Regions from separate parts of the Homo sapiens genome. Here region 1 is linked to region 2. The links come from fine-mapping of genetic effects on gene expression. Tissue or cell type: cerebellum. Region 2 holds a variant in brackets; the other region holds the start of a gene. All regions are shown on one strand. Distances are between the middles of the regions.

The links. PIP is the estimated chance that this variant, and not a neighbour inherited with it, causes the effect.
Region 1: it holds the start of ADCK1, and the variant in region 2 is fine-mapped to the expression of ADCK1 in cerebellum (GTEx, PIP above 0.99). The same link has a PIP of 0.9 or more in amygdala, atrial appendage, caudate, cerebral cortex, gastroesophageal junction and hippocampus.

Annotation. Positions count from the first base shown.
Region 1 is chr14:77,795,845-77,803,948 of GRCh38, reverse strand. It overlaps ADCK1 (aarF domain containing kinase 1), which reads right to left and starts at 3,840. Exons shown (of 11, transcript NM_020421.4): 1 at 3,779-3,840. RefSeq lists enhancers at 1,004-1,843, 3,225-3,304, 3,315-3,364, 3,438-3,976, 3,977-4,515 and silencers at 3,555-3,914, 7,620-7,669, 7,680-7,729.
Region 2 is chr14:77,903,879-77,911,982 of GRCh38, reverse strand. It overlaps ADCK1 (aarF domain containing kinase 1), which reads right to left. Exons shown (of 11, transcript NM_020421.4): 7 at 4,064-4,180. Among named protein-coding and RNA genes, the nearest start is that of ADCK1, 110 kb to the right of the region's middle. The variant G/A (reference allele first, on the strand shown) is at 4,034.

The DNA of each region.
Region 1 (8,104 bases), 110 kb after region 2:
AGGTGGCTCAGCTAGTAAAATGGCTAAGAGCTTGAGCAGGGCCTTCCCACTCATTCCAAGTATTCAGCCCTTCTCTTTATGACAGGTAACGTCTTTGATAGGAACACCTGGACTCCTGTTCACTAAAGTCCTTACTGCTGTTCTCAAGTAAATGCAACTGTTGCTGTGGGCAGAGACTATGATTTCTGACCCAGTGCCAGGCATGTGGGAGGCACTGTTTGGAGCCCCCAAAATCAACAGGATGTCACAAGATCAACCAATGCCTCCCACTAGAAACAAGCCATTTCAGTCTATCAAATGTTTAGGAGAGCTGCAAAGCTGACATGGCTGTTTTATTGTCAAATCAATGACAAGAATGGAATCCATCTCGCTGGACCACAGGAAACACCCCAGTAGGTTATGAAAATGAAGCAACAGGAGAGTCTGGGACGTACAAATGGGAAGCTGATGGTCACACGAAATGTCCGTCCCCTTGACAGAACTAAATGGGAAACCAAGCACTTACTGTTCATCGGAGTCAGTGACTAGCTAGGCCTTTTCAGTTTCCATCCATTGGCAGCCCTCTCCCTATGCTACATTTCAGGACTAAAGGCCTGGAATCACCTTTCCCTGTTTGGTGCACAAATGAGAATTACCACAGAGAAAAGGCACTTAGGTCTCTAGTTCCATGAAAAGTGACCATGGCCTCCTCCCATTTCCTAGAGAGACTATTATACCAATGAGCATTATTTCTTCTAGTCTGCCCCCAAAACTGAAAAAAGACCCAAAAATACCCTTGGAGAGAGTGATAGGGTCTTCAGAAGAACCTGGTCCCTGATATGGATAGAAAGCACACAAAGTGAATGATACCATCATGCCTCAAGTCTGGAAAGATGCCAAAGACACCAAGTCAATAGCAAGGGACTGTGTGAAGTTGGCCTGAGCAGGTTTACAGTCTGCCCTCCCTAAGATAGTAATGTAGTCCAGGAACCAAATTGTATTTATTTATTTATTTTGAGATGAAGTCTCATTCTGTCGCCCAGGCTGGAGTGCAGTGGCGCAATCTCGGCTCACTGCAAGCTCCGCCTCCCGGGTTCCAGCCATTCTCCTGCCTCAGCCTCCTGAGTAGCTGGGACTACAGGCACCCGGCACCACGCCCAGCTAATTTTTTTGTATTTTTTTTAGTAGAGACGGTGTTTCACCATGTTAGCCAGGATGGTCTCGATCTCCTGACCTCGTGATCCGCCCGCCTTGGCTTCCCAAAGTGCTGGGATTACAGGCGTGAGCCACCGCGCCCGGCTAGGAACCAAATTTTAATCAAACTCCCTTTCCTAGTGTTTGATGCCTAAGCACTCAAGGTCCTTAAATCAATGTTGATTAAATAAAGGAATCCCGGGAGGCTGAAGCAAGAGAATTGCTGGAACCCGAGAGGCAGAGGCTGCAGTGAGCCAAGATCGTGCCACTGCACTCCAGCCTGGGCGACAGAGCAACACTCTGTCTCAAAAAATAAAAAAAGGAATCCCTGACTGATGCCAAGGTCCCAGAATAGACAACAAAAATAATTCTCACCCAGGCAAGGAATAGAAATCCTCCATTCAGTCCATCCTAGGAAAGGCAGACTGAGGGAGAATAGGGCAAAGCCAGATGCAAAGAGCAAGCAGCAGGTAAGAGAAGAGAGTGAGCTTCCAACGGGAGAGCTACAGTACCAAGCACTTATTAGCTCATTAACTCACACAACCAGATTCCGAGGTGCATGCTATTAGAGCTTCAATCTATGGATAAGGAAGTGGTGTTTTAGAAAAGGTAGAAAACTTGGCCAAGGAGCTGGTAAGTGATGGAGGCAGAACTTGAATCCATGTATGACTGCTCCCACCAAGAGAGCAAAAAGTGCACAAGAACAAGCAGCTTGCTGGGCCCTGAAATAGGCCACTGGAGTCCCTGCAACATGGAAACCTTAACCCAGGAGGCATATTTAGTGAGTTACCCTGGTGAAGAAATGGATGGCTGACCCAACTAAATTTTTTTTTTTTAGACGGAGTCTTGCTCAGTCGCCCAGGCTGGAGTGCAGTGACACGATCTCGGCTCACTGCAGCCTCCGTCTCCCGGGTTCAAGCTGTTCTCCTCCTCAGCCTCCCAAGTAGCTGGGACTACAGGCACACACCACTACGCCCAGGTAATTTTTTTGTATTTTTGGTAGAGATGGGGTTTCACCATGTTGGCCAGGCTGGCATTGAACGCCTGACCTCAAGTGATTCGCCCACCTCAGCCTCCCAAAGTGCTGGGATTACAGGTGTGAGCCACCGCACCCGGCCCCAACTAATATTCTTACAGGTCCTTTGTCTGACAAGAAAATGACTGCATAGCAGAAAGTAAGAATATGCACACTCTTCTAGTACAGATCAAATCGCACATCCCTGAGGCCAGTTGAGAAATGGCCAAGCAAAGAATGACCCAATAAGGTAGAATATGATGTAACCAGGAAAAATGACAAGTATAGACTACATTAAAATCTGTATATAAATTAATATGGAGGGAGTTAACAGTGTACAAAGTAATATGCACATATTTACAATCACCAAAAAAGTAAAACTGGCAAATAAAGACAGAAAGACCCGTAACCAGGTGTGAAGAGATAGTGCTTTAAGTTCACAGGATTTTTTTTCCTATAAAGCAGTGGTACTCAACGTATGGTCCCCAGACCAACAGCAACTGCATCACTTGGGTGCATGTTAGAAACGCCAATTCTTGGTCCTCATACCAGACTTACAGAATCAGAAACTTTGGGGATGGGGTCCAGTACTGTGTGTTGTTACTAGCTCTCCAGGTGACTCTGGTGCATGCTAAAGTTTGAGAACCACTGTAGTAAGAAAATTATTTTATTTATTTTCCTTTTTTTCTTTTAATACAGACGGGAGTCTCACTATGTTGCCCAGCCTGGTGTTGAACTCCTGCCCTCAAGCAATCCTCCCATCTTGGCCTCCCAAAGTGCTGGGATTACAGGCATCAGCCACCACATCCAGCCCCAAGAAAATTATTAAATAAAACATATGAAGCCACAGATAAAGTCTAATTCACTTCAACTCTGCAAATATTTCTTGAGCACCTACTAAGTGCCAAGTATCATGGAGGTAAACAATAAATACTTGTTGAATGACTTTCTTGTTAGTAGAAAGTAAATGCCACTTAACCCTGGGAGAGGGCTGTTCTAGGTGTCTTATCTAAAGGTTGCTCTCCACACACACTGGCTGCTGTTAGCACATATCTACTGTGTGATCTGGAAGCCCAGGGCCCTGCAAGATGCTGGAGATAAGCAGCGGTCTGGGGCACGTTCGCAAGACCGGGTGGAGGGCCAGGATATGGGCATCGCCCCCTGCTCTTGCCCAGACCACGCTCCAGCTCCAGCTGCTTCTGCCTCGGAACTCACAGGGCCACCAGGGGGTGAAGGCGTCTGGGTGAGCCACCTCCGGCCCTCCTCCAGCTCTGCCCACTCGGGTGCCTGCAAGACTGTGCCACTGAAGTGGACAGGTCACATGAAAGCCCACTGGTGTGCCAAACTGGAGAAGTCACTGCAGGGGGGCGGGGCAATGCGAGTCACCCGAGCCACGTGGCCGCGCGCCGGGCCCAGGTGACAAGGTCATGGGGCTGTCCCTCCCGGCGCCCAGGGCGGCTGCACAACCGGAGCAGAGGCCGACTCCCGGCGTGTCCATGCCGGTTCCCTCGCGCTCCAGGCGCGGTGCGGCCCTGCCAGGCTGGTCGGCCCGAGCTCTGCGCCGGCCTCCGGCGAGCTGCCCCTACTCACCCCGAGGGAAGCAGAGCCGCGGCGCCCGGCTTCCGGCCGCAACCCGGTAGCGGGGAATTAGCTGGGAACCGTGCGGGGACAGCCACCTGACTGCGCTTAGTGAAGCCGAGGCGCGCGCGGCCTGCCGGGACTTGTAGTTCCTGGTTCCCCACGCCGCGATCCCGCGGGCAGTACTGTGGAGGCACAGGGGTCTCGGGCTTACTCCGTCAGGTGGCCTTGTTGCTTTGCCAGGGCGACGGACTTGGAATATTACTGAAATATTTTCTTCAAGACATTCTAACTACGTCCCAGGTTCGTGTTTAATGAAAGATGAAGTGGATTTGTAGATTTTTTTTTTTTGAGACTGAGTCTCGCTCTGTCGCCCAAGCAGTACAGCTAATTTTTGTATTTTTTTTAGAGATGGGGTTTCACCATGTTGGCCAAGCCGGTCTCAAACTCCTGACCTCAAATGATCCGCCCGCCCAAAGTGCTGGGATTACAAGAGTGAGCCACTGCGCCCGACCTCGTAGATTTTATTCATTCATTCATTCATTCATTCATTCATTTTGAGACAGAGTCTCACTCTGTCGCCCAAGCTGGAGTGCAGTGGCCCATCTCGCCTCACTGCAACCTCCGCCTCCCGGGTTCAAGTGATTCTCCTGCCTCAGCCTCCTGAGTAGCTGGGATTACAGGAGTGTGCTACCACGCCCTGCTAATTTTTTGTATTTTTAGGAGTGACGGGGTTTCGCCATTTTGCCCAGGCTGGTCTTGAACTCCTGAACTCAGGCAATCCACCCGCCTTGACTTCCCAAAGTGCTGGGATTACAAGCCTGAGCCACCTCACCGGGCCATAGATTTTAAATAAGATATTGGAACTAGTAGGCGAAGAAGAAATTTACTGACAATTGATGTATGCTGGCGGGGCGGTGGCTCACGCCTGTAATCCCAGCAGGCCAAGGCTAGCAGATCACCTGAGGTCGGGAGTTTGAGACCAACCTGACCAACATGGAGAAACCCCGTCCCTACTAATAATAGCAAAAATTAGCCAGGCCTAGTGGTGCATGCCTGTAATCCCAGCTACTCAGGAGGCTGAGGCACTAGAAACCCGGGAGGCAGAAGTTGCGGTGAGCCGAGGTCACGCCATTGCACTCCAGCCTAGGCAACAACAGCGAAACTCCGTCTCAAAAATAATAATAATAATGCTGGCTGGGCAGGACGCAGTAGCTCACACCTGTAATCCCAGCACTTTGGGAGGCTGAGGCGGGCAGATCACCTGAGGCTAGGGGTTGGAGACCAGCCAGGCCGACATAGTGAAACCCCATTTCTACTAAAAATAGAAAAATTAAGCCGGGTGCGGTGGCTCATTCCTGTAATCCCAGCACCTTGGGAGGCCAAGGTGGGCGGACCACTTGAGGCCGGGAATTTGAGACCAGCCTGGCCAACATAGTGAAATCTGTCTCTGCTAAAAATACAAAAATTAGCCTGGTGTGGTGGTGCACGTCTGGAATTTCAGCTACTCAGGAAGCTGAGGCAGGAGAATCGCTTGAACCCGGGAGGCGGAGGTTGCAGTGAGCTGAGATCACGCCACTGCACTCCAGCCTAGGCAACAGAGTGAGACTCTGTCTCCAAAAAGAAAAAAAAGAAAAAGAAAAATTAGCCCAGCATAGTGGCGGGCACCTGTTATCCCAACTACTCGGGAGGCTGAGGTGGGAGAATTGCTTGAACCCAGGAGGTGGAGGTTGCAGTGAGCTGAGATTGGGCCACTGCACTCCAGCCTGGGCAACAGAGCAAGACTCGTCTCAAAATAAATAAATAAATAAATATAATATGCTAGCTAATCTTAGTTATCTTTGGCCCTTATTCATTCATTCACTGATCTCCATTATCAAATGTTGACTTATAAGATGCACTTTGAAGACATGTATCAAAAACATTTCTCTTTTTTTTTTTGAGACAGGGTCTGGCTGTGTTGCCCAAGCTGGAGTGTAGAGGCTCCATCACTGTAGCCTCAACTTCCTGTCCTCAAGGTACCCTCCTGCCTCAGTCTGTGGAGTAGCTGGGACTACAAGCACATACTGCCACGCCTGGCTAAATTTTTTAAATTTTTTCTCAAGAAAAGCTGGGGGGTGTGGTCTCACTATATTGCCCAGGCTGGTCTCGAATTTCTGTGCTAAGCCATCCTCTGGCCTTGGCCTCCCAAAGTGCTGGGATTACAGGTGTGAGCCACCACGCCAGGCCTCAGACGTTTGTTTATTCTATAAACATCTCTTGAGCTATTTTTTTCATGGGGGAATTAATCTATCAGTCCAATGCAGTTCCAATCAAATTTCCAACATAATTTTTTCTGGACCTTCACAAACTAATCAAAAGTGTGTATGAAAAAACAAAGGGCAGCGCAGTGGCTCGTGCCTGTAATCCCAGCACGTTGGGAGGCTAAGGCAGGTGGATCAGTTGAGGTCAGGAGTTCATCACCAGCCTGGCCAACATGGTAAAACCCCATCTCTACTAAAATACAAAAATTAGCCAGGCATGGTGGTGCACACCTGTAATCCCAGCTACTCAGAAGGCTGTGGCAAGAGAATCCTTGAACCCGGGAGACAAATGTTGCAGTGAGCCAAGATCATACCACTGAATTCCAGCCTGGGTGACAGAGCGAGACTTTGTCTCAAAAAAAAAAAAAAATACAAAAAACAAAAAAAAACCACCACTTTAAGGCAAAGCATAGCCAAAACATTCTTGAAGAAGAAAAATGTGTTTCAAGGACGCACCCTTCCATGTCAACATGTATTATAAAGCTATACAAATTAAGACCATGTGATATTGGAATAGGGAAAGGCAGAGGGGGAAATGGAACCACCTACAGAGCCCAAACATGCAGGCATCTATGAAATGAGGTATGGCTGGAATTATAGTTCAGTGAGGGAAGATAGAGTATTCAGTACATGGGCTGGAACAACCAGTTACCTGTTGGATCCCCTATGCAAAAACTAATTCAAGGTAGGTTAAAGACTTACAGGGGAAATTAAAGCATTTTAAAATTACAACTTTTTTTTTCTTCTTACTATCGTTCCCCAAAATTATAACTTTTACAAGAAAAGAAAACATCCTTATGATCTCAGGGTAGGGTTTATTAAGTGCCATAATCACAAACTGTAAATAAAACTTTGATAAATTTAAACTACATTAAATTTAAGCACTTGTCTTTATTGAAAGACAGCATAGACTGAGCACAGTGGCTTATCCCTGTAACCACGACAGTTTGGGAGGCCAAGGCAGGAGAATCGCTTGAAGCTGGGAGTTAGAGACCAGCCTGAGCAACATAGCCAGACCCTATGAGATTACAGAAAAATTAAAAATTAGCTGGGCATGGTGGCGCATGCCTGTAGTCCCAGCTACTCTGGAGGCCAGGGAGGGAGGATCTTGAGCCCAGGAGTTCAAGGCTGCAGTGAGCTTTGATGAGTCTTGCCACTGCACTCCAGCTGGGCAACAGAGAGAGAGCTAAACCCGGTCACTAAAAAAGAAAAAAAAAGATAATTGCAGCACAGAGGTAGCAGTAGTATAGAGTTAAATAACACAGCCCCCACCATCTAAAGTTTGCAATGTATAGGCATTAAGATAAGAAGATTGATAACTTCCAAATAATGTGAGAAGTGTTAAGATTGAGGTATGAACAAAGTGGCTTAGGAACAGAAAAAAGGGAGCATTAGGCCAGGTGCAGTGGCTCACACCTGTAATCCCAGCACTTAGGGAGGCCAAGGCAGGCAGATCACTTGAGGTCAGGAATTCCAGCCCAGCCTGGCCAACATGGTGAAACCCCGTCTCTACTAAAAATACAAAACTTAGCTGGGCGTGGTGTCACACGCCTGTAGTCCCAGCTGCTCTAGAGGCTAAGGCAGGATACTCGCTTGAACCTAGGAGGCAGAGGTTGCAGTGAGCCGAGATCATGTCACTGCACTCCAGCCTGGGTGACAGAGCAAGACTCCATCTCAAAAAATAATAATAAATTAAAAATAAAATAATAATAAGGGCCAGGCACAGTGGCTCATGCCTAAAATCCCAACTACTCAGGAGGCTCACGTGGGAAGATAACTTGAGCCCAGAAGGTCAAGGGTACAGTGAGGCATGATTGCACCACCACCGCATTCCAGCCTGGGTGACAGAGAAAAACCCAGTCTAAAAAAAAAAATCACCTGGAGAGCTTTAAAAGTCTTCCTGGGCCATAGCTGGCACTAGCACCCCTTCAACTACTGGGAATGGGACTGAGTCATAGGTATTTTGTAGAGCTCCCTGTAGGATTTCAATGCACAGCTGAGGTTAAAAACCCCGATTTAGAGTCAAAGAATCTTA
Region 2 (8,104 bases):
CCAGGGAGCTAGAAATGACTTGCAACTTTATCTGGACAGTGATTACATATTATATTCACATGGAAACTTACTGAGGTATACAATTAAAATTTGTGACCTCAGGTAAGTTATCTTCCCTCTCTGAGTCTCTGATTCTTCATCTGCAAATCTGAGACAATAAGACCTCCCTCATAAGTTGATAATGCAGAAAGCTCCTGGTACACAGAGCCAGGCAGTCAGTAAACATTAATGGTTTAAAAAAAAAAAAAAAGAAAGCTGGGGAGGTAGAAGAGAAAAAAATAGCCCAATGACAACAACAACAACATTCATCTCACTATCATTTTGGGGAACTTACTTAGCACACGCCAGGCACTGTGCAAAGCATTGTTTGTGCATTAACTCACACAGTCCTCACAAAATCACTTACTTAGAGATGGGTACGATAAAACAGAAAAATGTTTCTATGAAGTGATCCTTGATGTAAGCCAGAGAGAGAGGTGTTACATTCAGACACTGCCTTGGTGCAGAGCAATGCTTCTCAGATGGTGCTCCAGCTCCTCTGAGTAGTTAGTTACCAAGTGGCTCCAGGTTCCAGCAGCCCAAGGTATTGGGTTGGTGCAAAAAGAATTGTGGTTTTTGCAATGGCCCAAAATAAAAAACAAAACACACATTTACCTTTGCACCAACCTATAGATCCCTGGCAGGGAAATGGAGAAGGTAGAGGGGCAAGGACTTTGGAGTCATGCAGACCTGAGTTCAAACCCTGGTTCTACCCCTGCTAGCTGTGTGATACGGGGCAAGTTGTTTAACCTCTCTGAGCATTTGCTTTCTCATCTGTAAATAGGGTTAATAATATATACTGTATAGGAGAGCTGTAATGAGTAGAGATTATGTGTGTCATATGCCTGGCACATATTAGTTGCTTATAATTATTATTAGTTATTGTTTTTCCCCAAATAACTCTGATATCAGCTTGCCCCATTCTGCATGTCCACAAGAAAACAACCAACACTCTCCCCTAGGCCTGCCTGGTAGAGGCCAATCTAGGGTGTGAGGCTGGTTTGTTTACCCATTCACTAATTTAAGAATGTCTACCAAGGATCTGCTCTGCACAGACCACTGGCTTTATCTACAAGGTATCAAAAGAGCGGGGAGGCAGAAGCAGATGAGACCAGTCCTCAGAGGGTACGCCCTGCCCAGCTCCTACTGCCCAGCTCCAGCCTAGCTGCCCCCTCCGGCCAGGCACAGCACTCAGCCATAAGCAAACAACTACCCAGAGCGCACCTTTCTGTGTTTGCATTTGTTTGGAAAATCAACGTTGCCTCTGATTAAACACCATTACGGCTCTGGGCTCACTGGATCCAAAGAGATTAATGGACTTGAGGGTGTTGCTGGAATGAAAATGCCTCCACAGCTGGTAGTAAGTAAATGCCAGGAACCTGGCGGGGATGAGGCCTCTGGGATATTTCCTGATCAGCAGGCGACAGACCCTGTTTCCCTTTAAGGCCGTTCAGGAAAGGCCAGAGGTGGCCTCCCATCCCATCGAATCCCTTCGCCACTGGAACCAAAGACTGTATTCTGCTTGAACACCTCCCATGTACCACCCTAGAAGCCACCAGTGAAGGCAGCAGAGTCAGAAGCCCTGACTTGTGTTACTGGCCAAGTGACCTCAGGAAAGACATTTGCTCCCTCTCAGAACTTTTCACCCCATCTGTAAAATAGAAGGATGAACTCTTTTTCTCATCCCTTTCCCTCCAAGCAGCAGAACTCTTCCAGAAAAGTCCAATAGGCAGCTCACGCATTGGCAAAGCTGCCCTGGGTAAAACAGAGTGGTATCTGTTTCAGTGTAGCCTGCCCATATCCCACACACCCCAAGGCCCTTGAATGGGTTATTGAAGCACTGTTCCCTAAGTCAGGGGACAACAGCTTTCCTAGAAGGCCTGAGCCAGCCACAGAGAAACGTTCCCACCATGCTCCTGGCAGCAGCTCTGTGCACTTTGATGCGGCCCCTCCTTTGTGGCCTAACAGGAAGAGTGAAATCAGGGAGACTCAGGTCTCAATCCCACCTCTGCTAAGCTGTGTGACCTTCTCTCTCTGAGACTCTGATTCTTTGTCTGCAAAATGGAGACAATGAGACCACCCTCATAAGTTTATTATGGAGAAAAGGGCCTGGCACAGGGAAGTTAGGCATGCAATAAATGCTAATGGTAAAAGGAGAAAGAAAGAACAGAGCCCAAAGATAATATAAGGAAATCAACAACCACCACCCAGCTACTCTTCTGGAATGCTAGCCACACACCAGGCACTGTGCTTAGCACTGTTTGCACCCTAACTCACATAGTCTTCACAGCCCCTCTTAGAGGCAGATACTGACCCCATTTACAGCAGTCACATGGCCACCAGGAGGCCTGTGCAACCACCACACTCCCCTGCCACCCCCCTGGGCTCATCTGCTGAGCCAAGGTATGGCTTTCTCCTGTGGGCCAACTCCCCATTGGGACCACATGCTCACGCTCATCTTCATGCACTGCCTGTGGACATGGGGAGTGGAATAGAAAAGAGCATTCACAGCCAGGCGCGGTGGCTCACGCCTGTAATCCCAGCACTTTGGGAGATCGAGGCAGGCGGATCACCCGAGGTCAGGAGTTCAAGACCAGCCTGACCAATATGGAGAAACCCTGTCTCTACTAAAAATACAAAATTAGCCAGGCATGGTAGCGCATGCCTGTAATCCCAGCTACTTGGGAGGCTGAGGCAGGAGAATCACTTGAACCCAGGAGGCGGAGGTTGCAGTGAGCCAAGATTGCGCCATTGCACTCCAGCCTAGGCAACAAGAGCAAAACTCCGTCTCAGGGAAAAAAAAAAAAAAAAAAAAAGCATTTACCTCCACTGGGCGTGGCCCACTTCCTTCCTTCCATCCCAGAGGGCAGAACATGTTGCTGCACTCCCCAAAACCCTGAAGTGACTCCACAGTGCCTCAAGGTCACACCCAAGACCATTACTTTATCTCCCCACACACCCCAAGGAATCCTGCCCCAGCCCTGCCAAACTTCACCCATTCCCTTCCCCTTCTTGCAAAGCCACTCCCTGGAAAACTCCTACTCATCCTGCTGGGGACACCAACCTGTGGCAGGCCTCAGTGCCTCTTCCTCACTCTCCCTGGGGTTCTCCTCACACCCTCTCGCTGCCTGAGATACAGCAAGGATTTAGATGTGTGTCTGACTCTGATGCTAAGCTCTGGGGACTAGGTCTGGTCCCCCTGCGAGCCCCCATACCTAGCATATAGCAGACACTATTAAAATGATCAATGTTGAGCCTGGCCACGTGGCTCACACCTGTAATGCCAGCACTTTGAGAGGCCAAAGTGGGAGGACTGCTTGAGCCCAGGAGTTCCAGATTACAGTGAACTATGATTGTGCCACTGCACGCCAGTCTAGGCAACAGAGCAAGACCCCATCTCTAAAAACATAAAAATGAAATTATGAATGTTGTTGAAAAAGTACAACTCCACCCATTCCTGTGGGACCCTGTGCAACCAAGAAGCAGAAAGTGAGGGACAGGTCCTACCCACTGGCCAGTATTCCCTGGGACAAGGGGGATGGGAGGGGGGACACACAAAGCCCACCTCTTTTTTCCTGCTCTAGGAGGCTGATGCAGTTGGTTGCTGCTGTCCCCTTTTTGCCTGATCCCTTGAGATCTGGGAAGTGGGAAGGAGAGAGAAGGGCAGGAAGAGGGAAGAGACAACAGACAGGCCCCACAGAGCCAAAAGGATTAAGTCCCACTGATTTTGCATCATTGTTCTCTGTGGCCGCTTAGCTTTGTGGGGCTCAGATGGTACAAAGGAAAAGCAGGTAATGGCAGAAGGGGTTCAGCATGTCCCTGCAGGCCGCTGTGTGCACAGGGCTGGCCTAAATGACCTGAAAGAATCTTTCTTGCTCAAAGTTTATAATTCTCCAGACAATGGGCCCTATTAAAGACAAGGGGGCCAGACTCTGAGGCCTCACCTGGACACACAGGCACTTCCTGGGCAGCCTTGACCAAGCCCACGTTCCCC[G/A]GCACAGCAGCCCTGAGCTCTTGACCTCACCTCATTGACGTCGATCTTGTTCCTCTCCATGTAGTCTCTGTCATTGACCTGCCCGCCATCCACAAACTCCATCAGGAGGACCCGCTCCGTGGACAGGTCCCAGTGGATTCGGGGGACCTGGGATAGGAAGGGACAGGTCAGATGGTCTGGGGAAGCTGGGAATCGGGCAAGGATGACAATGTGGCACAGCGAGCCAGACAGCAACAGAGGCTCCTCCCAGAGCAAGGGAGAAGAGGCCCAGGAGGGACCTCAGCGGTGACAGTGGGGATGGGACAGCCAGGCCAAGAGGGAGGCTGGCTACTCCACCTCTGCTCAGCAGGCCTCCGCCCACTCCTTTAGATACCGGCTTTGCCAACTCTCCTCAGTGCCTTCTAATGCTGTTAAGAGCCAAAACTAAAGTTGGGACTTGGGAGGAAAATGTTGGAACACCTCACACCTGGGCATTGCTGTTAAGGATATTTCCTCTCCCCATCCCGCCACCAGGCCTACTTCGGACTCCTCCCTCTGCCTCCAATATTTCACCCAGGTAATGGGTGCATTGTGTGTATTGAGCAAATGACTGAGTTTTAACCAGATGATAAATTTTGTTTCTCATGCCTGTTTCCTGTAGGAAAACACGTTTCCTGGGGCAGACAACATTGGATATTAACCCAACATCTATTCCCAACCCTCCTCTTCCCTAGAGATGAAAAAAACTAAATACTGGGGCCAGGCGGAGTGGCTCACACCTATAATCCCAGCACTTTGGGAGGCTGGGGCAGGTGGATTGCTTGAGCTCAGAAGTTCAAGACCAGCCTGGGCAACGTGGCGAAACCCTGTCTCTACAGTAAATACAAAAATTAGCCAGGCATAGTGGTGCGTGCCTGTGATCCCAGCTTGGGAGGCTAAGGTGGGAGGATCGCTGTCAAAGCCAGTGTGCTGTGACCTTATACATCACACCACTGCACTCCAGCCTGGGCAACAGAGCAAGATCCTGTCTGAAAACAAACAAACAAATAAAAAACCTAAATACTTTCCTTGCCTGCTTTATAGTAGGTATGGCCATGTGACATAGTTCTGACTTATGAACAAAAATGGAAACCTGCTAGGGGATTCTGGGAAGGTTTTTATTTCCTTGATTTAAAAAAAAGGGGGTATTTGCATAGTGCTACTCTTCTTCCACTTCTCTTCTTGCCTCGAAAGTGAATGTGAATGTGACTGTTGGTGCTGTAGCAGCCATCTTGCAACAATGAGGAAAAATAAAAAAATTTAAAAATCTGAGAAGCCAGCTCTGGTACTGTTAAACCACCAAAACCATATGTCAGTAGGCAACCACTGCAAACCTTCTTGCTATGTGAAGACAACAAATTCTTTTGTTTAAGGCACTCTAAATGAGGCTTTCAGTTGCCTACAGACAAATGCATTACTAACATACACTCTCCAACCCTCTCTGACTCTCATAACACTCAAAAACCAAAAAGAGAACAGATTTCTCCAGGAGCGGGCAAGAGACTAGAATGCAACCAGGCTGCCATGTGAGCAAGGGACACCCACCAGTACCCCCACAGCCAGGAGGGAGGGGTTACTGGGCTTCCAGCATGCCGAGTTTCCCCCAAATTGTGAGGAGTTTATTTCCTCTTACAAATAAAGAAACATGGGCAGCTTTTTCAAATGTTTTGGAGAGTAAGATTTTCCTTTACCCTGACCACCCAAATTCATCTAGCAATAACATAGTGGCCCTCAAGTCAACAGACCTATTTCCTGTTCCTAATTCTGCTAATACTGTTGTGTCTTAGACTAGCCACTTAACTTCTTTACATCCCAGTCTTCCTCACTGGAAAGCAGAATTGTTTCTGCCCTATCTCAGTAAGGACCTCTGAGGATAAATGGGGGCTGTACATACAAGTGAAATGCTCTAGTTGGAACAAAGTTTCCACCAGAAAGCAAGGTGTTATTTTGGTTTGCTGCTTGACTGCGGTTTCTGCCATTTGAAAATCTGGGCCAATAGAGAAATCTGTGAAACTGATACTTTGAACTTAAAATTTAGACTTGCTTGGCATTTTTCAAAAAGTTTCTTTTTAAAAAAGTGAGTGCATGTTTGCTATTGTTGCTTTGTCGGTTTCTTTAGAGACAGGGTCTCATTCTGTCACCCAGGCTGGAATGCTGTGGCATCATCATAGCGCACTGCAGCCTCGAACTCCTGGACTCAAGAGATCCTCCTGCCTCAGCCTCTCAAAGTGCTGGGATTACAGGCGTGAGCCACCGTGCCCTGCCTGTTGTTTTTGTTCATGGCTTCCAAATGAATGGGACATATTTTCGGGTTAAATTCTTCCCTTGGGTTTGTTTGTAAACCTACCTTTGACAGTGGGCCCCTAAGGCTCTGGAGACAAGAGGTCAAATCTCTAGCCAGCCCCACCAGAGGCAGCTTAAAAAACAGCGAGGGGCTGGGCGCAGTGGCTCACGCCTGTAATCCCAGCACTTTGAGAGGCCAAGGAGGGCAGATCACTGAGGCTGAGGAAAGAGAATCGCTAGAACCTGGGAGACGGAGGTTGCAGTGGGTGAAGAATACGCCACTGTACTCCAGCCACGGTGACAGAGGGAGTGAGATTCCATCTCAAAAAAAAAAAAAAAAAAAACCAGCTAGGAAAGAGTCACAGGTGGAAACAGAAATCCCACAGGCTGGAGCTTCTCTGTGCTTGTGCATCAGGGTCCTGGGTGTACTGCGGTTTCCCCCTTTTTGGTCTCCCTGCAAACATCACCATTCCAGTCTAACCACAGAATGTGCCCCTTGCTTCTGCTGCTTAAATCTGAAATGACTAAAATATCAAACCTGGGAAACAGTGGAATTTGTCATGGGAGCTTCAGAACCACAGGTGCCCCTGGACAGACATAACATGGAAATGACTGCAAAATGCCAAACTGCTCCTGCTCAGTTAAAAAAGTGAGCTGCGCCTAAATCACCAGATGGGCAGGAGGACCTGGGGGTGTGGGGTGAAGTGAGCGCCCACATTTCCTGTCCTATGCTTCTTCCATCAAAGAAGGAAAAAATGAAAAAGAGAAATTTGAAAGAGTCAATAAGCACCCCGCACTCCCCCATCCCACCCCCAAACAAAGCAAGCTGAAACTCTAAGGAGCTCATGGCCAGGGTGCTCAGCGGCCCCACCAGCAGGGTCACACCCTGACCATTAGGACCCCTGGGTCCAGGTTCTACCTCTTTGCCACAGAGCAGAGGCCTCCCTCCTGTGGGCTCCTCCTGCCTCCCACACGGATGCCAATCTGGACCCCAAGAAGGAGGGCACCAATTAGAGAAGTTTTAGCCCAAGACCCTGGGCCTCAGCCTCACAGTCTGGCCCTGACCTCACATTTCTGCTTTGTTTCTATGCTTTGGTCAACATGCCCACGAAACAGGCTGCGCCTGGCTTGTCTGAGACAGTGCCCATCACCCTAGGCCCACAGTCCTCCTGGAGCCTGAGTCCAGCACAGCAGAAGGCCTGGAGACATGCAGTCAGACCGGCAGATTTGGAGTCAGGCTGCTGGCTGGAGCCCCGGCTCTGCCACCTAAAAGCTGTGTGACTGTGGGTAAGTTATATAACCTCTCTGAACACCAGTTTCTCCACCAAAAATATGGTGATAATGGTTACAGTGGAAGCACAACCCCACCTCCGCCCCCATTTCCCACTACTATGAGCAGAGTACTGGCACTCAACATGGAACCAGACACTAGCAGCTGCTGGAAAAAACATCGATTGCTCTTAGGACAGCCACATCGAGTTTCACAGAGGGCTCTGATACACACCAGGGCTGAGAGTTATGCTCTAGACGGTTCACTGGAATTCACAACTTCCCCACAGAGCAAAACCATATGGAGGGTGAACATGCAGGCTCTGGAGCAGGCTACCTCTATTCCCTCCCCTTAGTGGTAAGCCTTGTGACCCTGCCCAAAGGGTTGATAGCTCTGAGCCTCAGTCTCCCAACTGATGATATGGGGGTGATTATGGCACCTCCCTTGTGAGGCTGTTGTAAGAATTAAAGAATTAAAGAATATAAATCACTCTGCAAAAA